Homo sapiens: one gene and its partners. The protein of the gene in region 4 interacts with the protein of the main gene of each other region in a biochemical or structural test. Each region holds a gene or a part of one and is shown on either strand. Other genes may lie near its edges.

Region 1 (7,000 bases), on a different chromosome or scaffold from region 4:
AGTGAAGATGCTGTGAAGATTGTTGAAATGACAGCAAAGGATTTACATAAACTTATTGATAAAGCAGTGTCAGGGTTTGAGAGGACTGACTCCAATTTTGAAAAAAGTTCTGCTGTGGGTAAAATACTGTCAAACAGCATTGCATTCTATAGAGAAATCTTTCATGAAAGGAAGAGTCAATCAATGTGACAAACTTCATTATTGTCTTATTTTAAGAAACTGACCCAGCTACTTCAATCTTCAGTAACCACCACCTTAATCAGTCAGTAGCCACCAACATTGAGGTAAAACCCTCCACCAGCAAAAAGATTATGACTTGCTGAAGGCTCAGCTGATCATTAGCATATGTGAGCAATAAAGTATTTTCAATTAAGGTATGTACATTGATTTTTTTACATAATGCTATTGCACCCTTAACAGACTACAGTATAGTGTAAACATAACTTTTATATACACTGGAAAACCAACAAATTTGTGTGACTCACTTGATTGCAATATTCTCTTTATTGCAGTGGCCTGGAATGGAACCAGCCGTATCTCCCATGGATGCCTGAATTTATTTAATAGTAAGCATTCAAAAACACCCATGATTTTCCTCCTCTCCTGACTATTTGCCATTTAGAATAAGAAATACAGGTAGCATATGATGAAAATTAATATATAGCTAGAAAATATAATTTTAAAGATAACATTTACAATGGCAATTACAAAAATATAAACCACCTAAAACTCAATCTAAAAAGAGTGCATGCCCTTTGAAGAAAATTATAAACTGTATTGAAAGACATTAAATAAGAACTAAATAAATGGAAAGAGTTACTACATTTACAGATAGAAAGACTCAGGCTCAATGTCCTAATGATGGCATTATCTTTTAATCAGTCTATAAGTTTGATAAAACTCAAATCAAATCTCAACAGTATTCTTGTGAAACCTTGAAAGATGATTATAAAATGTATACGGAAGAAAACAGCCCAAGAAAAGCCAAGACACTCTTGAGACACTTTTGCAGAAGGACACTTTTAGGGATGTGTCCTGGCCAATACCAAGATTCATTAAAAAGCTATAATAAAGTTTGGTTAGGGCAAAAGAGTGGCTAAAACATATGCTTAGAAATTGACTCTAAGTTCCAGGAAAATCATTTTTCCATATGAAAGAAAATTAGAATAAATGCCTACCTCACACAACACACACACACACACACACACACACACACACACATATATGCACACACTCCACATGGATTAGAGAACCTAAATTTGAAAGGCAAACAAAACAATAAAGCTTTTAGAAGACAACAAAGGAGAATATCTTCATGACATCAGAGTGGGAAAAAAAAGGCTTTCTGAAACAAGACATAAAAAGTGCTAACCATAAAAGATTGATAAATTCAACTACGTTAAAATTAAGAAGTTAGATAGCAGAAGGTTGGCAAAAATCCAACTTCTATGTGGTCTATAAATCTATTCAGCTTCCCAAAGGCATAAATAACCTTTTTGCATTTATTGGAACTATATTCTGACAACACATGCCATAGCTCAGATTCAGCATATGGTTGGCCCATCTTTGACTTTGTCCACAATTAGATTACTAGCACTACTGGTTTAACCTGAGTATATTTGAATGGATGTGGCTTATACCTAGAACTTTCGTGAGTAGACATATAATACTGCTCAGAATAACATGGCCTGCAATTCAAGACAAGCACCACCACATGCCATCATTATAGGTACTGCTACACCATCACCAGGGACTAGGATTGTACAGCATCTCTTCCTTACCCTCTGTGCAGCGTTTTTCTATGTTTATGATCATTCACACCACAAAGTTCATTCTTGTTCTGCTAACTGCTGGGATTTAACTGCTACTACAAAAACTACCAGGAGAAATATATATCAGTGAAAGCAAGGATAGAAAACCCTAGGGTAGATCAACTTCTAACCCCATGAGAGAAGGTAATCTACTGTCTCCCACACAGCCATGATTTTGTACCAAAAGCTTCCTCCGGTGAGCCTGTGAGTCTTCCATTTCCTTTCTCCTCTCATTCATTCTACCATGCATTCTTCACCAATATTCTGCCATTCACTCTACATGTTGACATATATACCATAATATATGAATATAGTCTGAGACAATAAGAGAAGAAAATGTCACCCACATATGACTTATGTTTAAGGTGATGTAAATTTTTTCAAGATGTCCCTTGCATATATCAAAAGAGATGCTTCTGTTGGCATGATAGTATCTAATAACAACACTCTGTTACTGATGGGAAGTTATTTCTTGGGGACCCCAAGGAATGGAACCTCATAAACTTTCAATGCATTTCATGTCAGGGTACTGAGTAATTACATAGCATTACAATTTTAAAATTTCCTCTTTGGATGAAAGCAGTTTTATTTATAATTTTTCCTATAATGGAAGTAGATAGCTCTAGTGAATCGACTGTTTTAATAGGACAGATTTGGATAAGTAGTTATTGTTAATGATTTTAAGAGATGTCAATAAAACATAGAAATGACTTTCAACAGATAATTATTATAATTCACTCCCAAATCTAGATTACAAAATAAAGAATCACAATAAAAAATGATTTTCAAGTTCACTGATCACAAAGAATTTCAATATTGTCTATGGAAAACAATTTACCCTAATCTTTTTACCCAAATTAACTTAATGAACCACAGCAGACTGAACACATTTAATTCAATTCAATTAAGCAGAAACTTATTGAGCATCTACTACATTCCAGACACCGGAGTTAAAAGGGACAGCTATATTTCCTTTCCCTAAGTAGTTCATAAATGTCCTTTATTCCAGTATAATTATTAGGCAAAATACTATTTCTTTCTTATTACCTATGTAGTGACTAGCTAGACAGTTTATAAATGTCCTTTATTTCAGGAAAATTATTGGACAAAATACCATTTCTTTTTATTATATATACAGTAATGAGCTAGAAAGTGAAGAGAATTCAGTGGAATTGTTTAGGTTTGTTCTGGAAAAATATATTCAAAAGAATTATCAAATTTAGGATAGTGACTATGTCTGCCAAGAGAAGGGGACGTATGATCAGAGAAAGGTTACCAGGAGGTTTCAACTGTATTTAACTGGCTTTATTTCATTAGCTGAGTGGTAGGTACAAAACTTTTTATTATATTGTTATTTATACTTTTTGTGTGTCTTAACCCATTTATGCCAGAGGTTGCAAATTGTTTTTTGTGAAAAATGAGACTTTGGTGATGACCTTGAGCAGTAGGATATAAATAACGCCCACAAGCTTAGCATTCCAATAAAGGAACACTAGGCATAAATGGGTTAAATATTCTGTCCTACATTTCAAATCACACACATATTATTTTCATGATAGAATGAAAACTACTCTTAAAAGGCTTAAGTGATTCTCTACATTTTTCCCAATCTATTTCATAAGACACTGAGAGATGCTACTTGAAATCAAAGGTTCTATGGCAAATGAATTTTTAAAATTCTTCATGAGTTAAATGACTTTAGTGCAGAAAATCTCTGAACCTTTAACATATCAGTAAATACCACATCTTACTAAGAACAGGATATATAATTCAATATCTTCCAAACATTTTTGAACATGGAACTTATTTTTCCCTCTGAGCCTTCTTCCTTTTGAAATATTCATAATGATCTTAGGGGACATTAGTGTTTCCTGGGACACAGTTTGGAAAATGCTCTATTAAAAAAACCCATTTTGATGCATGTTCTACATTACCTCTGTACCCAATTATGCCCATCCCTAAGTCAATAACCATCCTTCATGCTTGCATGACTTTGTCCATGAAGTCCTATCAGTCAGAACTGCCTTTAAGCCTTGAGAAACTCCTGGTCAGCCTTCAAGACCTAGGTGAAATGAAGCCTTCCCCCAGCCTTTCCTTTCTCCAGGTAGAGTAAATTACCACCTCCAGAAGGTTCCACAGCTGTATACATATTTTCCATAGCGCATCTCCTGCTGTAACAGTTATTTATGCATGAAACCAGGTCCCTAGATGGCAAACTGTGCAATTGCATCTTGGTACTCTTCACAATGCCTAGCACAGAGCCAGAGTCAAGCACAAAGTAGGTGCTCAGTAAACATTTGTTGAATGGACATAGAAGTGATGTTTATGTGCATGACCAGAATGTTCTTCCTCAATTTCCCAGATTCTCTCAATGCATATTCACAGCTTTTCAATTATTTTCAGTTGCAACACTAACATGAATAAAAACAAAGAGACATAAAGACTGAATGTGACAAAGGCAGATAGAAACGAGGAAAGACAGAGACAGAGAAAGAGCAAAGAAAGAGATACCTGAATTGATGGATACCAAGTAAACAAATCATGAGTCCATTCAAGAGATGCAGAGACTGACCAACAAAGAAAATTGTAAATCAATATGAAGCTCGGAGCAGATGCATGGGGTTGGTAATTTGCAAGACTCACTACAGGTGGTCAAGAGGGCCGATTTGGGTTCATGCTGAACTACTTACAACTATTTGGGAGGACCCATCCCCTTATTTTTATACCATAAGTTAAACAGCCCGCCTTCACCACCACAAAATTTTCGTCATTTTAGCTGTCATCTCTTCTATTCAGCAGAATTTTATTTATATTTTCCTTTCTGTTTATGAGACTCCCCCACTGGCATTGCAGATTGGTTATATGTCAGCTTCAAATAAAATAAAATAATAATAATAAAAGCAAGCTTGCAATTTCTTTCCAATAGAATATGCTACATATTTCATAAAATAGATGCCAGAGGAGTTTTATGATTCCTCAACCAAAACCTTCCCACATCTCAAAACTAAATGGAAGAAAAATAAAAAGAACATGTCAAAGAAAAAGAAATCTGAACATTTGCTCTCCAATCAGAGGGAAATATCCAGGTGATTAATTTGATTAATGAGTTGTTTTCATTTTTTTACATGAATTTATATCCTGATATGCATTTCACAGATTCAGTTCAGTGTGAGTTTTCATGGATATAAATGTACATACCAGAGGAGGGGTTTTCTTTTCCTACTGACATGCTTTTTTCAGTACAGAATGTCTAGCTGGCTCATGCTCTTAGCCTGACAACACCTCCTCTGCCAAGTTTTATTTATATTTTCAAGCCACGTCTCTATCCTGGTATAGGAGACAATCTGGTCTAGTGAAAGGAGCACTGGACAAGGAGTCCAAGAATCCTGAGTTGCGATGGCGCCTCTGGGCTGTAAAGTTACGTATCTCTGCAAGCCTAATATTCTTTCAATCTGTAAATTAGGACAGTTGACAAACACACCTCTAGAATTCAATCAAAGTCATTTTACTTTCCTCAGAATAACTGCGGAAAAGTAAAATGGCATGGAAATTTTAACATGATGTGTACTTCCACAACTCCTCTTCACAAAGAGCCAAAATGTGTAAGGAAATATTTCCAATTAAAAAAAAAAAAAAAAAACCTTTGCCTAAAATCCTAAAATGTATCTCTTCCTAAAGATAGACCAGATACTATTGGGATACATAACTCTCAGAATATCAATGATGGAAAACTTTTTCATTATCTAGGAGATGGGTTTTTATCTCATTTGAAAGATAACACTAATAGCTAAGTAACTTTACATGCTAGGTATTATTCTAAGCACTTTGTGTTAGTTCCTGTAATCTTCATAATTTTATGAGGTAAGTACTGTTATTTCATTATAAAGAAAACTATAAAGCACAGAGAAGTTAGATTAGCTGGCCAAGGCCACACAGCTTACAGAGCTGGTAGAGCTGAGATCTGAAGCCAGGCAGTCAGTCCAGAAACGAAGTCCAGACTCCTTACCACCTGCTATACCACCTTTTAGTTTGAGAATCTCTGCTTACCACAGCTAGTAACTGAGAAAAGCAGTAATGCTGTTTCTGCGTTACTAATTGCCTAAACAATTATTTACTAATTGATTACTAATTGTTACCTAATTAATAAACATTTTCACAGAGTAAATAGATGTGAACCAATACTAACCAATGCCTGATAGAAACTGCCACAGAGTCACAAGTGTTCAAAGTGCCTATCATTGCCCCACTCCCTGTTGATGATAAGGTAACACCCATTTTGTTTGCTAGCATCCAAAAATGGGGAAATATGTAGCTTGCTCCTATAGAAGTCTTACTATTTCATTATTCTCCATTAAATTTTACACCCTGGGAGCTAGCTGGGATCACTTCCTCACTCAGAGGCAGCATAACAGTGGTTAGGACAGACCCTGGAACAAGAATGGCTAGGTTTAAATCCTAGTTCCATCCCTTACTTGCTATGTAATCTCAGGCCAGTTACCAAATCTTCCTGTGCCCCAGTTTCCTTATCTAGCTAATACAAATGAGAATACAAGTATCCACATCCTAGGGTTATCTGAAGATTAAATAAGTTAATATGTGTAAAGTGCTTAGAAGCATTCCTGACTCTTAGTAGTACTCCATAAAGGTTAATTATTCTTTTTTATTAACATGAAAGGTGACTTGCCAAACATCACAAAGTCAGAAGTAGCTGGATTCAATCCTGGTCTTCCAATTCCAAATGCCATCCACTTTCTTGAACAGAATTCCATGCTGTCTATTACTAAGAGATCATTCTCTTGAAATCCTGCTATGTGCCAAAGCACCCAATCATATGATTTTCTCCATAAAATTGCTCCAAGACCCACAAGGTAGGTAATATTGTCCGTTTTGCAGATGATGAAAGCAAGGTTCTGGGAAGTTGAGATTCATCCTCAACTGCTTAACTCAACCACGAGTATTCTTTGTCTCAGTAAGTCCTAAATAACATTTAAAGTTCCGGACAATACCCTTCAATTTATGCTATTTTTAAAGTGCCATCTAAGAGACATAAACTGTGATTTTCTTGCTTTGTTTGCTTTATTAGTTTGAGAGAAGGATTAAATCCCAGCAAAAACAAAATGTTTGACTTGAGTGAATTATCAAAATGAAATGCTGCCTCCATTAGATTCTTCATCTGCCTGCAGGGTGGC
Region 2 (6,998 bases), on a different chromosome or scaffold from region 4:
TTTAGATTTCCAGGGTACTTGTACCATAGACACTTGCCAGACCTAAATGACATTTTCTTACTGATCAGTAGATTGCTAAAATTTCTTTTTTTTCTATCTATAAGCCTTCCTCCCACTTTTTCTTAGGATAGAAAACCAGACCACACTCTTGTTTTCCATTCTCTTGATACAGAGAGTTTTCCTTACCTAAAAAATACAGCATCTGTCCATAAAATCTAGTTTTTGGAGGACTTGGGGGAATTCATTCAACGGTTTGCATGAGTATAGAAGTTAGTTTTTAAAATTACTTTTTTCACATTATCATAACTATGTATGTTTATAAAGACACAGTTCCCTATACATGAGTAAAAATGTAGATTCAAATTCAAGGTAGTAGAAATGGGTGTAAAACAATCATTTAACTATGATTATGTTTCATCAACATAAGGTCATTAGGTCATTCTTTATAAAATCATGTTTAGAGATAGAATTCTCCTTTCAAGGTAAATTTTATGCACAATACCAATATAAAAGATAGTTCAAAGAAGAGTTATTTGGTAAAAGAAAGGAGCAGAAACTGTGCCTCTTCCCTTTCCCAGTCACGCTTCACTTGGGCTCTGAGTCATCTCCAAAGAACCCATGGGCTCCACAAGTAATTTTCAAATAACTGGACTATGAGATCTCCAGAATCTTATCTTACTGAAATTATCTCATGTCCATTTCTATCCTATCAGAATATATGATGGTAAAAATGTAAAATAGGAAAAAACTTGATAGACATCTGTAATATAAAATAATTACATACTTCTCAAATATTGCAATTTGTAACTTGTTTTGATGGTAGTCTTTAAAAACTAATGCAATAAATACATTGGACTTTATATATTATACTTGGGATCCTTCTAGAAACAAGTCCCGTCTTTTAAAGACTTATGAACCAGGGATTACTGTAGGTTTGAAATTATTCCCTTAAGTTCATACTGACTTAAAGAGTATTATCTAGACCCATTCTTAATTTTTGAACCTTAGACAAGAATGCTAATGTCTTTTTTCCACACCCCAAATTCTACTATAAACAGACACTATAAAGTTTGTAATGCCAAAAATGCTGGACCTTGAAGCCAAGAAATGTAGATTCAGTTCTGGGTGTTAGTATTGAAGTTTGTCTGTGATACAGTTTTCTCTAAAATGAGTTTACTTACATCAAATAAGGTTGCAAGTATTAAATGAAGTAAAATAATATATATTTATATTGTAGAAAATGTTATTGTTATTTTGAAATATTACTATGAAGTATCATTTCAAACCATAACAGTAAAGTGTTATTTCATATTGGCCAAGTGTTTTAAAAATCTAATAAATGTGTATATTTTACAAAAGTAGAAATGAGTATTTGCAAAATAGTTAGATTATAATGAAATGTGATCATATATGTATGGAATTAAAATATGCAAATGGAAAGACAGCTACTAGTTTAGAACAATGCTACTTGCAAGTTTCAGACACATCTTGGGCCAGTGAACAAAAACATCTTCTGATTAGATGCAAGGATACTTACAGAATTAAGTATCTGATAGTTACAGAATTATCTTAAACTTTCCTTTTCAGGAAACACACAGGAAATACACACACATGCAGGGTTCAAATGTGTTAAAGTAAACAAGGTTAAAAAAATTCCTTAAAAAAATAGGGTGGCAACTATAACTTCCAAGGTAAATTCCAAATTCAGTACACTCTGTGCAAGTACCTCCAGTTGTAATTAATATTCTTCCCAGGCTAACCCATTATCTGATGGTTCTCTGTTTGGTTTATTGTTCTGGTTCACTAATGAGTCTGGGAAATTAAATGATTTCTACTTTAGTTCTTATTTTCTTGTAAATTCCAAAGGACCACTGGACTTTCTATATAACAAACATTTTTAAATATTTCATTTTGGCTTCCTTGTGAACCAATATTTAAAGCAATATTTTTTAGCTTCAACACACATTACTGACTTCAAACCACACAGAAAAAGACTAAAAAGTACATGCAAATCTTTACAAAACAGGTTTCAATATGCTACTTGATGATTTCAGAAACTGGGATGTACTCTAGAGAATTTATGCCATTTACAGTTATTTATAATTTTAGTTAATGTATAATTAATTTGAGGCTTTTACTTAATTCCTCCAAATTGATTTCTCCTTTACTTCAACTTGGCATCATCATCTAATAATTCAGTACTATTTGTAATAAGCTTCCTGAATCGAAAAAAAATTAACTTTATTTTTATTCTACTAATTTACACTAATTAAATTTCAGATTATTTAAAAGTAATATACTTTGCTATTCCCAGTAACAATGACAATATCTTTGTTCATTACAGAAAAGAACTTAAAAAGCACATATCCAAAATACACATTGCATTTGATCATGTAGAGCAAGTCAGGTATACCAAAAGTTGTGCAATTCAGATTGAAAATTAAACAAGCTAATGACTCTGTAAAGTAATAGTTAATAATTGCATATTAGACAACATGTTGACATAAGAGCTGTAAGTCATTTATAACATCTAACCTCATTATATTGGTCTGCAGTATAATGATCTTCATCATTTAAACATCATGTATAAATAGCCTAAGTATAAAATGAAAGTTTTATAATAATCCAAATTGGATTATAAATCACTTTAAATATTAACTTATACATACGACATGAAATGCCATTGGGTATGGTTTAAGCATAAAATATAGGAAGGTTGATAACTTGAAAATAATGCAAACCTGATTTTTAGATAAAGCCTAGTGACTAAGAAAACAGTTACTACCTTTTTTCCTGTCCTCCTATATAACTTCTTAGGAGTATTTATACAGTAGTGTCACCTCCCGTCATCTGGGTGATGGGAAAAATCCCTTAATCTTTTTTATTTAAAGAAAAATCATACAACTTACCTTTAAAATGGCTAAGAAGGATTTTTCAATCAAATGCTCCAACATTTGGACAATTCTTAATAGGATCAAATGGTATTCTGCAGGAAAGTCCTACACTGCAGTCCTCAGTACATAAATGCGTGAGAGTTTAAATATGCAACCACACCCCCTCCCCCCCCCAAAAAAAGAGAAGAGAAAGCACTCTACAGTGTCAGATCCCAGTGTGTGGTTTGTTGCCAGAGGAATTGAAAGAAAAAAAAAATCCCCCACACAGCACATTACTGATATGGCTAATAAGGGTCTATTTTTATGTTCTGGTGAAGACCCATTACCTATATCTGAGATATTCAGCATTTTTTTTTTTTTTGGCTATTTCCCATCCAAGTAAGTCAGAGGCCAGAAAAACAAAAGGAACTGACTTGCTGAGTTTCCCCTAACATATTCTCAGATGCTGAACTGAGACCGCTGGTGGAAATAGTAAATTTGGAAGAATAATCATATTCTCACTTCCCTGTCTTGACTGAGCTTGCGAAACTTATTTTATTAAGTTTAAATTTAATGTACTTTTTTATACAGCGTAATTCTGAAATACTGTGAGACTAATAATTCTGAAAACAATTGGAGACTGTCAATCAGCAAGGATGACAAACTGACTTAAAAAAAGGAAACAGCCTATTGTTCTAGCTGGAAGTTCTTAACTGTTTATCATTTTCTGTTAGTTTTGCAAAAATTTCATGATCACAGCACAGTGCTCCTACAAAAAATAAACTCTTTAAATTTCTTCAACCAAAATATGTCTAAGTAGAATTACTATTGAGGATAATCTTTAGTACTTAAGTCACTTTCAAAAAAAAAAAAAGCATTATGTTGATATTGAATCAAAATAGAAGGCCTTGCACTTTGGGGAAAGAACCTTCACTATCAAGACCCTGTTCTTATAAAGAAATTCTCAGAATCATACAGGAAAACCTTCACAGGGTTAACCTGGCATGTATTTGATAGGAGAGCTGGATAAATGCATTCAAACAACCTTAGAAGTAAAGTAACCTAAGAATACCAGACAGAAATATATTTAGTTCATTAGGTCATATTTAAACCAGTCCTTAAGTTAGAATGCTCGTGCTGTCCTTTTTGGGCATGTGAGGCACACAACGAATCCTTTCATTTGCAAGCAGTGCCATACAACTGAAAAAAAAAACCCCAAACACTCTTTTCTCCTCAAGAATTTTTTTTCCCCAGGGAAGTTTTTACTGACATATTTATTTAAAAAATAAGTCATAAAAATATTGTAAGTCTATTACTTTTTTTTCAAATCTCAGACCACTTAATTAGGATAAAGTAGAAATGACCATGTGCAATCTCTTTATAATTTATGCTTTCAGTTAGAAAAGAATAACTCACAGTGATTTCATGAAACTTAAGAAGGTAATTCCCTTAAATAACTGCGACCTTTTATCTTGGTGGCACGATATAAAATGGTAGTATAAAGACATATTATTTTGGTTAAGAATATCTATTTTGTAGATAGCTGTTTTGTATTTAAGCTAATTTATTTCTCAACCTTAATTCTCACACACTCACACTCTAATATGACAATTCAGAAAAAGATTACCAACGAAAGGGTTCAGATAAGACCTGTTTAAAAGAGCATATTTTAAAGATATTAAAAGACTAAAGTATAATGAAAATATGATCGCAATTAGAGAAAGATTATTTCAGAAAAAATACATGCAAAATAGATGCCTAAGTTGACATTAAACTTACTTGGGTATTATTTAATCAGTAGCCTAATGCCATTCAAATCTGCTGTCACTGGAGAGGAAAATGTCACAGAGTCCCATGAGCAGTCCAAAGAATCAAATTTACATTCCCAGAGACAGCTGTTAAGTGTTCAATCCCATAGACAACAGTTCCTGAGTAGCTTAGCATACAAGATCTGAAAGCACACAGCTGAGTCAAATCTGCAACTGTGGATTTTTAGAAAAATATAGACCTTAAACAATAACATAGCAAAATGCTGTACCCATTTTAAAGTAAAGAGTGTTGGGGTTTTCATTTTTTTAAAGACTATGCACCCACCATATTTTGAAGGGATGTGTTTTATGTGAGCATATACCTTGCTTTATGTAAATCCACTATAACACTGGATTAATTTATTAGAATGACAGGATATAATTTTCAATCTACTTCAGTCAGTTTAGACAATTCTTTGGAAATTCTTTTTTTTTTTTTTTTGCAAGAGATCACATAGGGTTAGAAATTGGAAGGATGTAAGTTTAAATCCTCAGGCTACCGGGCCCTAGTTATATTGACTTGTAATTGGAAGTTAACTGCTTGTTCTTCTTTTTCCAGATTTATCAAGGTATGAATCATTTTGACATGTGTATACACTGTAAAATGATTGCCATAATCAAGTTAATTAACATTCATTGCTCTCATTTTCATAATCAAAGAATAGAGAAAACTAAATAAAAGAGTAATAATAAGAGCTAAGAGATGAGTAGTGTACAATACTTGACAGGAGCCTGAAAATTTCTAGGCACTCAACACTCCCCATTTCATCACCCCCACTTCCTACAAGCCTCCTCCCCTCTCCGTTCTCTGCTTTATTTTCCACAGGTCACTTATCACCATCGAAGAAATTCTGCCAATTGACTTTTGTTTTTGCCCTGTCTTTGCACCTGCTAGAATGTTGGGTTTTTGCAGAGGGGGATGCTTGTCTGTTTAATTCACCACTGAACTTTGCACCTGCCTTTGCACTTGCTAGAATGTTGCGTTTTTGAGGAGGGGGATGCTTGTCTGTTTAATTCACCACTGAACCCCTATAGTACAGAATAAGCTCATAGTTGGTAATAAGTTGAATAAACAGACACACACAAGACTATTATAACCATCATAATGCTTTACAAGTAGTGAGAATGAGTGGAAATGAGAGACTATTATGCTGCTTCTTCATACCATGGATATGTAATGGTTTGATTCAGATTAAGAACATCTGCTAGGAAAATGAATGGAATCCGAGTCTGAATTTGGAATTCATCACTTCCTAAGTGTATGACTTATTGCTAACTACTTTACCTCTCTTAAACATGGTAGAAATATCTCCCTCACAGAATTGCTGTCAAGATTAAAAGTGATAATATGAAGGATTTAGCACAGAGCCTGACATAGTTTTTGTTTAACAAATAATTGTGGCTGGGCTTGGTGGCTCACACCTGTAATCCCAGCACTTTGGGAGGCTGAGGTGGGCGGATCACTTGAGGTCAGGAGTTCGAGAGTAGCTTGACCAACATGGTGAAACCTCCTCTCTACTAAAAATACAAAAATTAGCCAGGTGTGGTGGTGCATGCCTGTAATCCCAACTACTCAGGAGGCTGAGACAGGAAAATCGCTTGAACCTGGGAGGCGGAGGTTTGCAGTGAGCTAAGATTGTGCCACTATACTCCAGCCTGGGCAATAGAGTGAGACTCTGTCTCAAAAAACAAAAACAACAACAAATAATTGCATGGCCATCACTGGCTATCACGCACAATTTTATTTTAGAAAATGTATTAAGTATGGAGAGAAAGCAATATTGAAAATTATAGAAAAGTGTACAATGAGAGGCCTCAATCCCCAATTGTATTCCTCAGAAGTAACAAATGTTAAGTGTGTGTTAACCTTCCCCCAGTAATTTTATAATTTTCTAAAGTATATTAGCCATTTTTATTTTAAAACATTTGTAACAATATCCTTTTCACCTTTTTTTCCATAAATTGCTTTGTCCCTTTCTTAATAATTAGTAGGAAAATAGTCTTTGGACATTTGACAATTTTTTTTTAATTTGACAATTTTTACTTTTCTGTTTGTATGTGTAACTTACAGAAATGTTTACATTTTTATTCCATAAACTTTGAGTCATTTCCTTTTGAGGATTGTATCATGCTTTGAAAGCCTTTATCCACTTTGAGCATACTAAAAAAAAAATAAACTTTCTTTTAGCATTTGTATAGTTAAAAAAAATCCTTTTAACAGTACTTTTGGACAAGCTGATTCATGGAATGTAACACTTGTGAAATAAAAGAGGAAGAGTACAGTAAGTTGAGTAACAAATATTGCAACATATTTGAG
Region 3 (7,353 bases), on a different chromosome or scaffold from region 4:
ACAGTCACCAAAACAGCATGGTAGTGGTACCAAAACAGAGATATAGATCAATGGAACAGAACAGAGGCCTCAGAAATAATGTCCTATATCTACAACTATCTGATCTTTGACAAACCTGACAAAAACAAGAAATGGGGAAAGTATTCCCTATTTAATAAATGGTGCTGGGAAAACTGGCTAGCCATATGTAAAAAGCTGAAACTGGATCCCTTCCTTACACCTTATACAAAAATTAATTTAAGATGGATTAAAGACTTAAATGTTAGATCTAACTGCATAAAAACCCTAGAAGAAAACCTAGGCAATACCATTCAGGACATAGGCATGGTCAAGGACTTCATGACTAAAACACCAAAAGCAATGGCAACAGAAGCCAAAATTGACAAATGGTATCTAATTAAACTAAAGAGCTTCTGCACAGCAAAAGAAACTACCATCAGAGTGAACAGGCAACCTACAGAATGGGAGAAAATTTTCGCAACCTACTCATCTGACAAAGGGCTAATATCCAGAATCTACAATGAACTCAAACAAATTTACAAGAAAAAAACAAACAAACCCATCAAAAAGTGGGCGAAGGATATGAACAGACACTTATCAAAAGAAGACATTTATGCAGCCAAAAGACACATGAAAAAATGCTCACTGGCCATCAGAGAAATGCAAATCAAAACCACAATGAGATACCATCTCACACCAGTTAGAATGGCGATCATTAAAAACTCAGGAAACAACAGGTGCTGGAGAGGATGTGGAGAGATAGGAACACTTTTACACTGTTGGTGGGACTGTAAACTAGTTCAACCATTGTGGAAGTCAGTGTGGTGATTCCTCAGGGATCTAGAACTAGAAATACCATTTGACCCAGCCGTCCCATTACTGGGTATATACCCGAAGGATTATAAATCATGCTGCTATAAAGACACATGCACATGTATGTTTATTGTGGCACTATTCACAATAGCAAAGACTTGGAACCAACCCAAATGTCCAACAACGATAGACTGGATTAAGAAAATGTGGCACATATACACCATGGAATACTATGCAGCCATAAAAAATGATGAGTTCATGTCCTTTGTAGGGACATGGATGAAACTGGAAAACATCATTCTCAGCAAACTATCACAAGGACAAAAAACCAAACACCACATGTTCTCACTCATAGGTGGGAATTGAACAATGCAAACACATGGACACAGGAAGGGGAACATCACACACTGGGGACTGTTGTGGGGTGGGGGGAGGGGGAGGGATAGCATTAGGAGATATACCTAATGTAAATGACAAGTTAATAGGTGCAGCACACCAACATGGCACAGGTATACATATGTAACAAACCTGCACGTTGTGCACATTTACCCTAAAACTCAAACTATAATAATAATAAAATGTTTTAAAAATTCAATAGATTTTACAATATTTTTAAATAATTATGACTTTGTATTTATACATTTTATTTGTATTAGTATGTTTTCTTACATTAATTATACTTTTTATAAGGACAAGATCCGACTCAGTACTGATGTTCTTTAGAGCCTACTTACACATTTCATTGTATTTTACTTTAGTAAGAAAGCCACAAAATAAAAATCTACATTAAAATATGTGTGTACAAAAAAAATCTGATTCCCAGCCTATTCCTGTTTGCAATTGCTGCAACATTAAAATATAGCACATCAAATACATATTTGCTTCTCGGCTAGGATCGCCAAAGAAAAAACATCTTATGATTTGTGGTTGCTGTTATTTAATCTTCCCTGAGCTTCATCTTCCCTCATCTGTAGAAGGGGAATATTATTGAGTTTGGAGTGCTTTTGTAATGATTAAACACAGTAGAAGATGAAAAGTGCCCAGTGCAATTAGCAGGCCTTCAATCAAAATAAGCAAGCTAGCTAGCTAGCTGGCTGGCCAGCTAAATAATGCTTCCCTACATCCAGAATTTCCAGTTGTTTCATTAGATATGCACATTCAAGTTTTTACTTAGGTAATTTTAAATGTGTCCCAGTGGCAAGTGTCCTGCTAAAGGGGTACTGTTAGCTTCTTCTCACCTAAAACTTAGTTTGTTACAAAGGAAATGCCAATTATGGAAAAAGTCAAGCCTTGAGCTACTGAAGGCCGAGTAACCTCGCCAAAGTTTGGATGAGTCGCTTCACTAATGCACATGCAATCCTGACCTAGAGATCATGTGAGTTTCTGCGTTAGAAGGCGGGCACCTGATGGCTCCCAGTGCAGCCAATCAGGAGAGAACGTTGCCGCCACACCCACCTGCTCCGCGCTGGCCCTGGGAGAGGAGCCAACCTGTCTTGCTTTTTTTTTTTTTTTAACCAGGCTAAGCTGCTGTAAATTAAGTCTTCCTGGAAATCTCAGCAACTCTATTGGACGTGCTAATGGCACAGTTCACTCCAAACTGGATTCATATTTAAATATTACATATCCTCCAACTCTTGAGTGCTTTAATTTTGTTATCTGGTTAGCCTGGGAAATCATTTTAAAAATACGCTATAAGTATCAGACTTTCCCTTAGCAATTATATAAAATCTCCTTGCAGTTTTCTGAAAGGCACAGAAGTGCAGTTTGATTTGGTTGTCTTATCAAAGGACATTTATGCATGAAAATAGGCTGCAGGAGTATTCTATATAAGATAGCAGGCAGTTCTGCACGTCTGTTTATATGCCATTCACACCATGAACACATCCAATGCAATTGTATTCATCTTCTGTCATTTTTTAAAATTAGAGTTTACTACATGATTTTTGGAGGACGGCCATATCATAGTTATTCATCCCTTGCATGGTCTGTTCTGCCACTTCTAAAGTTCTGCGAAGTTTAATTTTTGGCAGGTTTCAAGATTCTCTACATACTTTGTAGGTTAGAGTGAACGTGCACAGTATATTGTGTAATAATTGCAATACAAGACGGTGTGTTGTGTTGTGGCACGGAATGCATCAACTTAAAGATAGAATTGTTATGCAGAATAGAGACCTTTGAAATATTTGGGTATTATCAACTTTTATTTCATTTTTTGAGAAAAACTTAAAAAGTGAGCCCAGTTTTTTAAAAAGCATTTCATTGTTCTAACCTACAATTGTGCATTGTATGTTTGTGTGTGTGTGACGGAGGGTGGGATGAATAAAAGGGGACATTAAAAATATTCAGACCATAAATATAGTAGATTGGAGGTTCTGATTTGATGAGCCAGTTTCTCAGCCATAAACTGAGAGGGGGTTGGGGATACACTTCATTGTCCTTCCTGGCTAATGTAAATCCCTTATATTTAAAAAGATATTTAAAAGTATTCCAAGCATTTTGGCAGAAAAGCATAGTATCTAATGTTATTTTTTTCTTATTTTATGTGCATGCCTCTTATCCATTTAAAAATAGCTTTACTGACCTATAATTTACACACTATATAATTCTCCCATTGAAAGTGCATAATTCTGTTGCTTTTAGTATATTTACAGAGTTGTGCAGCATCAGCATAATGTAATCTAGAACATTGTCATCAACTACCCCCAAATCTCTATTCTTCCCTTCCCCTATTAATTACCCAGCCCCAGGCAAGCACTGATCTACTTTTGGTCTCTATGGATTTGTCTATTTGTGGACACTTTAAATGGAATCATACAATATGTGTCTTTTGCGACTATCTTCTTTCACTTATCATAACTCAATACGGCTTTAGATTATTTGACCTCGATGTTCTGCCTCTGAACATAAAATATTATCCTTGCATTCCTTGATGAGTTTGAGGATTGAGAATAATTTGCATGAGACAAAAATTAGAAACTAGTTAGAGCAAGTAGGCTTTTCTCCATCACATAAGCTGATCCATCTTGCCAATGTTAAAACACCAGATTGTACAAGCACAAGCTGGGACGCAATGTGTGTCCCTCTATCCCTACATTGACTTTGCGGGGGTGGGGATGGGGTGCGGGGTGAGTGAGGGAGGACTGCAAGTGACAAACAGGATTCGTCAAAAGAGAGGTGTATTAAAGTGCCGATCAAATGTAATTTAACAGCTAAACTTTCCCTCCTTGGAAAACAGGTGATTGTTGAGTATTTAACGTGAATCGATGTAAACCTGTGTTTGGTGCTTAGACAGGGGGCCCCCGGGTAGAGTGGAACCCCTTAAGCTAAGCGAACAGGAGCCTAACAAAGCAAATTTTTCCGTCTGCCCTTTCCCCCTCTTCTCGTTGGCAGGGTTGATCCTCATTACTGTTTGCTCAAACGTTTAGAAGTGAATTTAGGTCCCTCCCCCCAACTTATGATTTTATAGCCAATAGGTGATGAGGTTTATTTGCATATTTCCAGTCACATAAGCAGCCTTGGCGTGAAAACAGTGTCAGACTCGATTCCCCCTCTTCCTCCTCCTCAAGGGAAAGCTGCCCACTTCTAGCTGCCCTGCCATCCCCTTTAAAGGGCGACTTGCTCAGCGCCAAACCGCGGCTCCAGCCCTCTCCAGCCTCCGGCTCAGCCGGCTCATCAGTCGGTCCGCGCCTTGCAGCTCCTCCAGAGGGACGCGCCCCGAGATGGAGAGCAAAGCCCTGCTCGTGCTGACTCTGGCCGTGTGGCTCCAGAGTCTGACCGCCTCCCGCGGAGGGGTGGCCGCCGCCGACCGTAAGTTTTGCGCGCAAACTCCCCTCCACCTGCAGACCCGGCGGGTGGCCACTGCCACCCGAACTGAGGATGAGAAGAAGGAAGTTGGAAGGGGCGGTGGATGCGCCCAGGGACTCTCCCAGCCTGGGCTCTAGCCCCGAAACGGTCCCCGGAGTGGGATCCAGGAGGGGCCGGGAGGGAATCTCCTCCCGATCGTGAAGCGGCGGCGCCCAGTTCCCGCTTTTTCTCTCTGCCGGGTTCCCGCGCTATCCCTTCCACTCTGGCTGGGACCGCGTTCCCGGGCTCGCAGGCTCCGCCGGGGAGGTTCCGGGGTGTGGGGGCCGGGACGGCGGAGGCGGGGAGTAAGGGCCCGGCTGGCGGTGACCTGCAGTCACCTCTCTGCCGGAGGGGCCCTGGAATGAAAGGCGCGCGGGCCAAGGTGACCTCGCCTTGGTTGGCACTGCGGCTCAGCCCCCGCCCGGGGACTCGCGGGCCGACTGTGGCCCCTTCTGGGGAAGCCGGGGCGCGGGGAGGCGTTCCGGGCATCTCAGCCGCACGGGGTACGCTCGCCCTCGGCGGGGCCCCTCGCTCCGCTGTGGGAGTGGCAGTGGGTGTCGGGGTGGAGAAAGTACGCGTGGCGCGGAGTCCTGGGGACGCGGCGTCCCACCCGCTCTGGGGAGCCCCGGACTCTCTCCAGCTTCCAGGCTCGCATGCCCCTCTTTTCTTAGTGCCCTGAGAACCCAGCGAGGGGCTGACCCTCCCGAAACCGTGGCGCAGCCACCAGCAATCTGTGGTCGCCGACTCGGGGGGTTGCCAGGTCTGCGTTTGGCCACCCTTTCTGTCCTGGGGGCTGAGGTCAGCTCCGGGCGCCCGGCCCCGCCGCGCGGCTGCGAGCACGTGGGGTTGACGGGCGCCGCGTGGAGGCAGCGAGCACAACGGTGGTCACCGCCGCCAGGGAACCGCCCGCTCGCTGGGGTCCAGGCGTTCGGGGCCAAATGAGAATGTCTCAGACCTGTCCGCAATGGAGGCAGCCTGCTTAATTCGAACCTCGATTCAGTAAACATGCAACAGCAGCATAGAGAGCAGCTGAAGCCATTCATAACACGGGACAACATTTCCTTTTTTCTTCCATGCTGGAATTGCAATTAGGGCGGTGTCGCTTGGATGTGCTCTCAGGCGGCACGTCCCCAGCGGTTCAAGTTATAATAGAGTCTCTCCATAGCTTTGATGGCCGCTAAACGTTTGTTTTATTTTGGCATTAATTTGTGAAACATTTTTGTTAGGTTAAAAAACAAAAAGTTGGCAGGGAGCAGTGGCTCACCCATGTAGTCCCAGCACTTCGGGAGGCCGAGGCCGGAAGACAGCTTGAGCCCAGAAGTTCGAAATCAGCCTGGGCAACATAGGGAGACACCGTCTCTATAAAAAAAAAATACAAAAATTAGCCGGGCGTGGTGGCCTGTGCCTGTGGTCCCAGATAGTCAGCAGGCTGAGAGATCACTTGAGCCAGGGAGTTTCAGTAGACTGCAGTGAGCTGTGATTGCCCCACTGCACTTCATCCTGGGTGACAGTGAGACCCTGTCTCATAAAATTAAAACAAAACAAAACAAACACTAAGTATAGATTCCATCAAAGCAAAATTGGATAAGAAAAAAAGTATCTTTTCTATTGGATCAGTTTGAAAACACTGGAGAGTTGATGAGAAAGTCTTCAACATCTTAGGTGGGGTATGTTTCGTATGTTTCCCTTCGTACTGCTTAATGCTGACAAGAAGATGGTAGGAGCCAACTCCAAATTCTTATTTCAGAAAGCACACCATAGAATAACGTCATTTTCATTGCAAAACAAGCACCGAAATATGTCATCACATTCAAGTTTTTCCTAGGCTCCCTTACAGGTTCAAGATCCTAAATTCTTGGGAGTCAGTGTCACCTCTCTGGGTTTAGGTTCCTCAACTCTGCAATGAGTTTGGATGAGGCCAATGTTCTCTGAGCCTGGTGTAACTCTTGCCTCTTTAAGTGGACACTTATGTGATTAATTAGTTTAATTGAGTTGTAGCCAACACATGCTTTTCCTAGCTGTAAATATATTAAGGAAGGATTATTTCCAAGTAGACTGGAAACGATGCCCTCCCATCCCCTCCACTTTCACTCTACTCACCCAATATATCATGCCTCTCCCATCACAGCAACTTTCTCCCTCTTTCTCCTCCAGATGCATTCATCTAGGAAGGTAAGAATTTCAGGGAGAGAAAGATGTCACCGTGGTAGAAAGACAGGGATCACCTCCTCTGGGCTCTTGAGTTTACTTATTCATTCTGGATTCTTTCTAACAAGAATATGAGGACAAGAGGCACTGTCCTCAGGCACTTCGTCCTGGGAGCCACCACCATCTCTGCATGGCCCCAATTAGGAAACGTGAAGAGCTAGGAGAGGGAGAGTATGGTCAGTGCTTAGCAGCTGAAGTTCCACTTGCCTGGCCATCGTGAATTTCCAGGCTGTCTTCTGAGTTGAACATGATGGCAAAGGAGAGCAAAATAGCAGATGTCACTGAAGGAGAGCTCAGCGAGGGAGTGATTGATTAATAGCTGTATTGAAAGGTGGGAGTCAGGTACGGGGGAAGAGCGGCGATGGAAAATTTTCGCTTTCTTTCAGCAGCTTATTTTTAACTCAGCTTTCTGTTCTTGCTTTATTATGGAGGAAAAATTGGGCCATAGAGTTTACTGCCTTATGCCAGATTGTTCAAGAAAATGCCTTG
Region 4 (7,039 bases):
CTGATGAAATCCGAGGATTTAGGGTGTCCATCACGCGAGCACGTTTTTGTTAACTACAGTCATTGACGTTATTTCTTCTACCTTACTGTAGGTTTGTATTCTTTAACCCACTTCCTTTCATCTGCTCTCCCTTTCCCCCTACTTCTGAGTCTCTGTCATCTTTCTACCATCTACCTCCATGGAATGAAATATTTAAGCTTCCACATACGATTGAGAACATAAGATATTTGTCCTGCTGTGCCTGGCTTATTTCCCTTAGCATAATGACCTCCAATTCCATCCCCATGCTGCTGCAAATGGCATGATTTCATTCATTTTCATGGCTGAATAGTATTCCATTGTGTATATGTACCATATTTTCTTTACCCTTTCATTATTGATGGGCATTTAGGTTGATTCTGTATCTTTGTTACTGTGAATAGTGCTGCAATAAACATGCCAGTGCAGGTATCCCTTGGATATACTGATTTTTCCTTTGGGTAGATACCCAGTAGAGGGATTGCTGGATCAAATGTTAATTCCAGTTTTAGTTTTTTGGGAAATCTGCATATTGTTTTCCTTGGTGGCTGTATTAGTTTACATTCTCACCAGCAGTGTATAAGACTTCCCTTTTCTCCATATCCTCAGCAACATCTGTTGTATTTTGTCTTTTTATTAATAGCCATTCTGACTGGTATAAGATTATATGTCATTTTGGTTTTGGTTTGCATTTCTCTAATGATTAGTAATGGTAACGATTTTTTCATGTATCTGTTGGTTATTTTTATGTCCTCTTTTGAGAAATGTCTATTCATGTCCTTTCTCCACTTTTTAATGGGATTATTTTTTCCCCATTGTTTGAGTTTGTATATTCTGGATATTAGTCTCCTGTCAGATAATAGTTTGCAAATATTTTCTCCCATTCGGCAGGTTGTTCTTCACTTTGTTGATTATTTCTTTTGCTGTGCAGAAGCTTTTTAGTTTAATTAAGTCCCATTTGTCTATTTTGTTTTTGTGGCCTAAGCTTTTGAGGTCTCTTTCATAAATTCCTTGTCTAGACCAATGTCCTAGAGGGAAACTCAGGGTTTTTAATGCATATAGAAGTCAGCCGCCATTGTCTAATTTTCCCTGTAGCGGTTGACATGGAGGACTAATACATAAGCTTCAGTAAAAAACTGCATAGGCCTTCGAGTAAATACCAAGCCTTCCAAACGGACTACAAATCTCCCTATGGGGCTCCGAGCAGCACCCTGGCAGGAGCACTCCAAGATGCATGCCCAGAATATAGAGAAAGTGTCTCTGGGTACCAGGCTCAGAGCGTACTTCAGCCTGCACAGAGGCTCATGCTGCCACACTGCTGGGGCCACCAGGGCCAAGCATTTACATCTCTCATGCCCTTACTCATTGCTTGAGCATATGGGTGTTACTTGCTGGAATTCCTTCCGTCCATTTGTTTTGGCACTTCTGGGGCCACCAAGGGCATTTATTTTTAGTCTAGTTCACTTCTACTGCTTGCCACTTTAATGACAGTGTTTCTATTTGTAAGCTAAAACTCCTTTCAGGACAAGCAAATTTCTGAGTCAGCAAAAAAGTTTTCCTAAGGGGAGAAGGGTTTGTAAGAGGCAAAGTACCACAACAGGTGTTAAGGGAAATGTTCTGAGCTGTCAAGCACAAAGATTGTGCTCTGGCCTTAAAGTCAGCCTCTGAAACATTGTAAGAACCAGTTTGGGCCAGGCACGGTGGCTCATGCCTGTAATCCCAGCACTTTGGGAGGCTGAGGCGGGCAGATCACCTGAGGTCAGGGGTTCAAGACCAGCCTGGTCAACATGGTGAAACCCAGTGTCTGCTAAAAATACAAAAATTAGCCAGGCATTACACACACCTGTAATCCCAGCTCCTTGGGAGGCTGATGCAGGAGAATTGTTTGAACCTGGGAGGTAGAAGTTGCAGTGAGCCGAGATAGTGCCATTGCACTCCAGCCTGGGCAACAAGAGTGAAACTCCATCTCGAAAACAAACAAACAAACAGCAACAAAAACACTAGTTCGGGGGCCACTAAAAAGTGGTGAATATGTAGGCTAATTCTTCTGAGTCATGGAAATAAGTGAATTTTACAGTTCAATTGTCAGTTACATTCAATTTCCATTTACATCAAATTGATCTTAAGAATCATGGACATAATCAAATCGTTTTTGTTGTTGGTCAAACACTGCTCTAAGACTTCACATCTCTTAGCTTTTAAAATTCTTAATCCTGCACAGTTGGCCCTATTATTCCTCTTTTACAGATCAGGAAACCTGGTAGAGAAGGAAAGTACAGTCACTTGTCCCAGATTGCCCTGGGCAGAGCTAGGAGTTGAACCCAGGCACTGGCTCTAGATACTGTGTTACTAAGCATCAACTTAGATTTAGCCTTGTTGTTGAGATGGAGGCCTGCTTTCCTTCCTCATTCTAAGTTTTTAAAAATGTTTCTAGAATTCCTCAGCAAGTCTTCTAAAAGGATTATAGCTCTTGGTTTTCTTGTCTAGGGTTCAAGTCAGAGGAAAGGCCCTCCATCGGATATACCTTGAAAATCGTTAGCTTCTGTGAGTGGTAAACTAAGTCAGTCGTTCTCAAGCTCCCGTGTGCATCAGAATCCCCAGGAAGGCTTGTTAAAACACAGAATGCTGGGCCCCAGCCTGGATTCTGATTCAGCAGGTCTAGAACAGGGCCTAAGTTTGCATTTCTAATGAGTCAATGTTGACACATGAACTCAATTAACATTGAATTAATGTTGCCAATTTCGGTCCACACTTTGAGAACCACTGCACTAAGGTTAAGAAGCTACAGCTTCTACCCATAATGTAAGTGGCTCTTTCATTTTCAGGGTTGTAGCATATACCAATAACACCCTCATAAGGCCTAATGTTCATCACAGGAGGGACACAGGAGATAAATGCCTCTTTTACAATACACATGATAGTAACATGTGAGTAAAGCCCTCAAAACTATTTTGCAGAAAAAATTTATTTGGGTGTCTTACTAGGCAGAGGTTCTTCTAAAATCCATCCTTCCCTCCCTGTGTAGTCTATCTTTGATTGGCCCCATTACTTACTCTAAATCAGTACTCCAGAAATGAGCCCAAATTCTTCCCTGACATTTGGCCATCAATCCCTGGCTATGCCCAAGCCCTCCTCTCACCTGATGTCAATTTAAATGTCTTGTTCCTTTGCCTCCAGGCTGCCACATTCTCTACCCATATCAAGCAACCTAGTGATTCAAGCAACCTAGAATAGCCAAGAATGGGGTCATTTCTTGGCTTACCACTATCTCTAGGATTAAGTTCCCTACTAATTTCCTCAGACTTTTCCCTATTGGTCACTACCCACCATCTGCTATACGGGCTGAGCTAACAGCTCAAAGGGGACCCACTCACTTCCCCATGGCTTTGCCCTTCCTCATGGCTGCTTTGTCTCAGTTTGTTCATGTTGCCCTTGTCCACCCATTCACCAGGAGTGGGCTCAGATTGTATTCTTGAATGAGGCCTCAATGCCTTTTTTGGAAAAACTAGGTATGGTCTGGCTGCTTTCTCATAATAGTCCCTGTCACAGAGCCATCACCCAAGGAGATGAGTTCAGCTACCATTTTTCACCTTTAGACACAGAGATCCCCTAAGGCATGGGCTGCAGTTCACATTTGTAACTCAGGACCTGGTGCCTGACATCCTATATTCTCTAGGCACTAGTTGGTAGTCTTGGGTGCATGAGTTGATTTATTAGTTTACTAATAAAGCTGGTCTGAACTAAAAACTTTTGTCAAAAACATTTCCCCCAGCTTTTTCAGAACTTGAAACCAAGTGTGACTGGTTGTTTTACTAGCTAGAATACTTTGAAAGACTCTAGGTTATAAAGGTCCCTGTTCCCTAGGCCTATGAGGGTACCTTCACCTCATCTTTGTAGCAATTTTTTTTTTTTTTTTTTGAGATGGATTCTCGCACTGTAGCCCAGGCTGGAGTGCAGTGGCGTTATCTCGGCTCACTGAAATCTCTGCCACCCGGGTTCAAGCGATTCTCCTGCCTCAGCCTCCTGAGTAGCTGGGATTACAGGCTCGCACCACCACACCCAGCTAATTTTTTTGTATTTTTAGTAGAGATGGGCTTTCACTATGTTGGCCAGGCTGGTCTCGAACTCCTGACCTCGTGATCTGCCTGCCTCGGCCTCCAAAAGCACTGGGATTATAGGTTTGAGCCACCGCGCCCGGCCTCTTTGTTGCAATTTATCATTTAAAAACAGTGCATTTTCACACACTTGTCTGTCAGAATGAGTGTGTCCCTTTGGGTGTGTTGGCTTCATTTCCATGTGAAAAGAGAGGTTCCAACACCTGAGAAGGTTAGCAGCGGCTAACTGGTAAAGTTGAGTGTGATATATCAGACGCAGATTTTACTTCTGACATGTTTTAATGCTCTTTGGTAATACTGGCAGTAATCCATTGTTGCTTTAGTCATATCACTTTTGTAGGATTATCTGCAGACATAGAATTATTTCTGGCTTTTTGAAATTAAAGTCTAAGTTCTTGGTAATTTTAGGGAAACTTCATAAGCTAGAACCCAGATAGCATATGGAAATTCCAGAAATCTCCAGCTGCTATCTGCCTCTTTTATGATTAAGTCTTAAACACTGGATCTGCTCACTCCTCTTCAGAGCTTCTATTCCAAGCGGTCTTTGGCTGTTTCCTGCTTTGATTCCCCTACTAGACTAAGTGCCACAAAGGAAGGAACCAGTGCTATGGTCACTCTGTCCCCATGCCTGGTGCCATATGGTAGGTACTCAGTAGATGTACATTAAGTGGTTTCCAGAAGATGCACAAAGATGACCAACATCAATCTGCAACCTACTTAGTGAACATACAGATCAGTTAATACCTCAGATGTGGGGAAGTCTTTCTTAAGAAAATGAAAGATTAGAGGCAGTCTATAAAATAGAAACCCTGTTTACTCACAGCATGTGGGAGAACTATTAAGTTCTAACAAACTTGTGATGTAACTCACAAATGCTGTCTATCGCCGAGGCTTTGTTATGTCCCTTGGTTGGCAAATTGCAAGTCCCCCCATCCCCACCACCTCGTCTACATACATAAAGGCTCCCCAGATGGCCCCCAAGTTGGCAAAATCAGCTGCTCTAGCCAGAGGCTTCATCTTATAGTTTCCAGCATCTCTAAACTACAAAGTAGGCAAAGGATCTCTAAGCAAGCATTGAAACATTTCTAACAGAATCTCCACACTTACTCTCACAGGACCTAACAGGCATTCTCTTGCTTAGAGACTCAAAATAACTGTTGGGCCCAAGCTTTCCTAGGAGACTTCACTCAAGGGGAAAAGTATGCTAAATTTATGGTCCAGGTTGAGCATCCCTAATCCGCAATCTGAGATGCTCCAAAATCCAAAACTTTGAGTGCTGACATGATGCCGTAAGTGTGGAAATTCCACACCTGACATCACGTGACAAGTTGCAGTCAAAACTTTGTTTCTTGTATAAAATCATTAAAAATAGTCTATAAAATTACCTTCAGGCTATGTGTATAAGGTGTATGTGAAATATAAACGAATTTCATGTTTAGACTTGGGTCCCATCCCCAAGATACCTTATTATGTATGTGTGAATGTCCCAAAATCTGAAAAAATCTAAACTCTGTGGAACCCTTCTGGTTTCAAGTATTTCAGATAAAGGACACTTAACCTGTGTTATCACCTGCCATCTCATTTGGTTCCTGCAGTGCAGTTAGTGTACTTAACTAAGTGGTATTAACAGTGTTTAGAGTTTTTGTTGCAAGCCAATAGACGAACTTAGCAAAGAGACACTGATTTAGTTTGAAAAATGCAGACAGTAAAATTGAGATGATTTTTACTTAAAAGCCAGATTCGCCTATAGCTAGGTTAGACTCTGCCCCAACTCTTCAGAAAAACTATCAGTCCTCAGATTTTCTAGCCCAAAACTCTTTAGGTGGCAGAAAAAATTGTCCCTGGACTACTTACTTCCGCTTAACAAGTATATCTCGCCCATAACCTCAGCAGACAGTATTTTTGGACTGTTTGCCTTGAAAGTAGTCTATCACTCTGTTGTCCAAGTATTCTTTTGAGATTAAATTAGTAGGGACCAAACTAAGCAATTTTGAATTTATCAACTAACCATGTAGAGGGCAGTTGTATTAGCCACCACAAGGAGCTCCCTAAGGCAGGTACATTTACAACGAACATCATTATAGACCTCATCAAGCCCTTTAATACATTTAATTTCTTATAGGCTAGTATGTGAAGGTGGTTTTCCAAATGAAAGTCAGTATCCAAAGTGAATGCAATCATTACTTTAAGTCACGTAGGCAACTGCCTTGTCTTAAACACTTTTCCCTGCACTGAAAAGAACAAATTTACATTCTGTGAGAAACAGAAAATGGGCTAGATATTTAAAATGAATTAGCTGTATTTCTATGCTGTGTGCCAAGTCTTCAAGGTTTGGGATCAAAACCCGAAGCCACACGGCTGGGTACTATGTGTTCCCTTGATCTTATGGTCATGTTCTACTCTAGGAGTTCTTGTTAAGTCTTATCAATTTGATACCTCTCCTGGAGCAGAAGGGGCTTGTAACAACTTTTTTCCTCTTCCAAAACTGTAATGAAACTACTCAAGTCAAGTTTACGGTTATTCAATTTTATGACAGGTAGAGACACTTGGATCAGGTCTTCACTTCTTTTGAGCATGGAGACTGTCACCTTTGCTAGCAATGTTTAGTGTTAAATAGCAGTCTATTGTACTAAAGTCTTAATATTTGGCAGCTCTACTTGACCTTTATACATGCTTTAAGTATCTGGGGACTCAGGCCATAAAAGCAAACAATCAAAATGACACAGGACAGGCACTATAGGTAAATGCCACATAAAGTGGGCAAGAGGGTGATCCAGGGAACAAAGCTACACTGGATTTCATGAAGCTGTTACTGCCAAGGAGGGCTTGGCTGGTGACCTTCCTTTACGCAGTCCCTGCTCACATGAGTGATCAGTCTTTGATAAGGGGTACTATCATCGTCATAC

Evidence for each region.
Region 1: the proteins of VLDLR (region 4) and DAB1 form a complex in vitro, tested with the Homo sapiens proteins (2 studies listed by BioGRID).
Region 2: the proteins of VLDLR (region 4) and CD36 form a complex in vitro, tested with the Homo sapiens proteins (one study listed by BioGRID).
Region 3: the proteins of VLDLR (region 4) and LPL form a complex in vitro, tested with the Homo sapiens proteins (one study listed by BioGRID).

Annotation. Positions count from the first base shown.
Region 1 is NC_000001.11:57,414,061-57,421,060, forward strand, and holds part of DAB1 (disabled homolog 1), read right to left. Parts: intron 1-7,000. UniProt on the Homo sapiens protein: Signaling adapter of the reelin-mediated signaling pathway, which regulates the migration and differentiation of postmitotic neurons during brain development.
Region 2 is NC_000007.14:80,634,658-80,641,655, reverse strand, and holds the start of CD36 (platelet glycoprotein 4), read right to left. Parts: upstream 3,015-6,998; 5' UTR 2,910-3,014; intron 1-2,909.
Region 3 is NC_000008.11:19,934,909-19,942,261, forward strand, and holds the start of LPL (lipoprotein lipase precursor), read left to right. Parts: upstream 1-4,344; 5' UTR 4,345-4,532; coding exon 4,533-4,620; intron 4,621-7,353. UniProt on the Homo sapiens protein: Key enzyme in triglyceride metabolism.
Region 4 is NC_000009.12:2,624,762-2,631,800, reverse strand, and holds part of VLDLR (very low-density lipoprotein receptor isoform a precursor), read right to left. Parts: intron 1-7,039. UniProt on the Homo sapiens protein: Multifunctional cell surface receptor that binds VLDL and transports it into cells by endocytosis and therefore plays an important role in energy metabolism.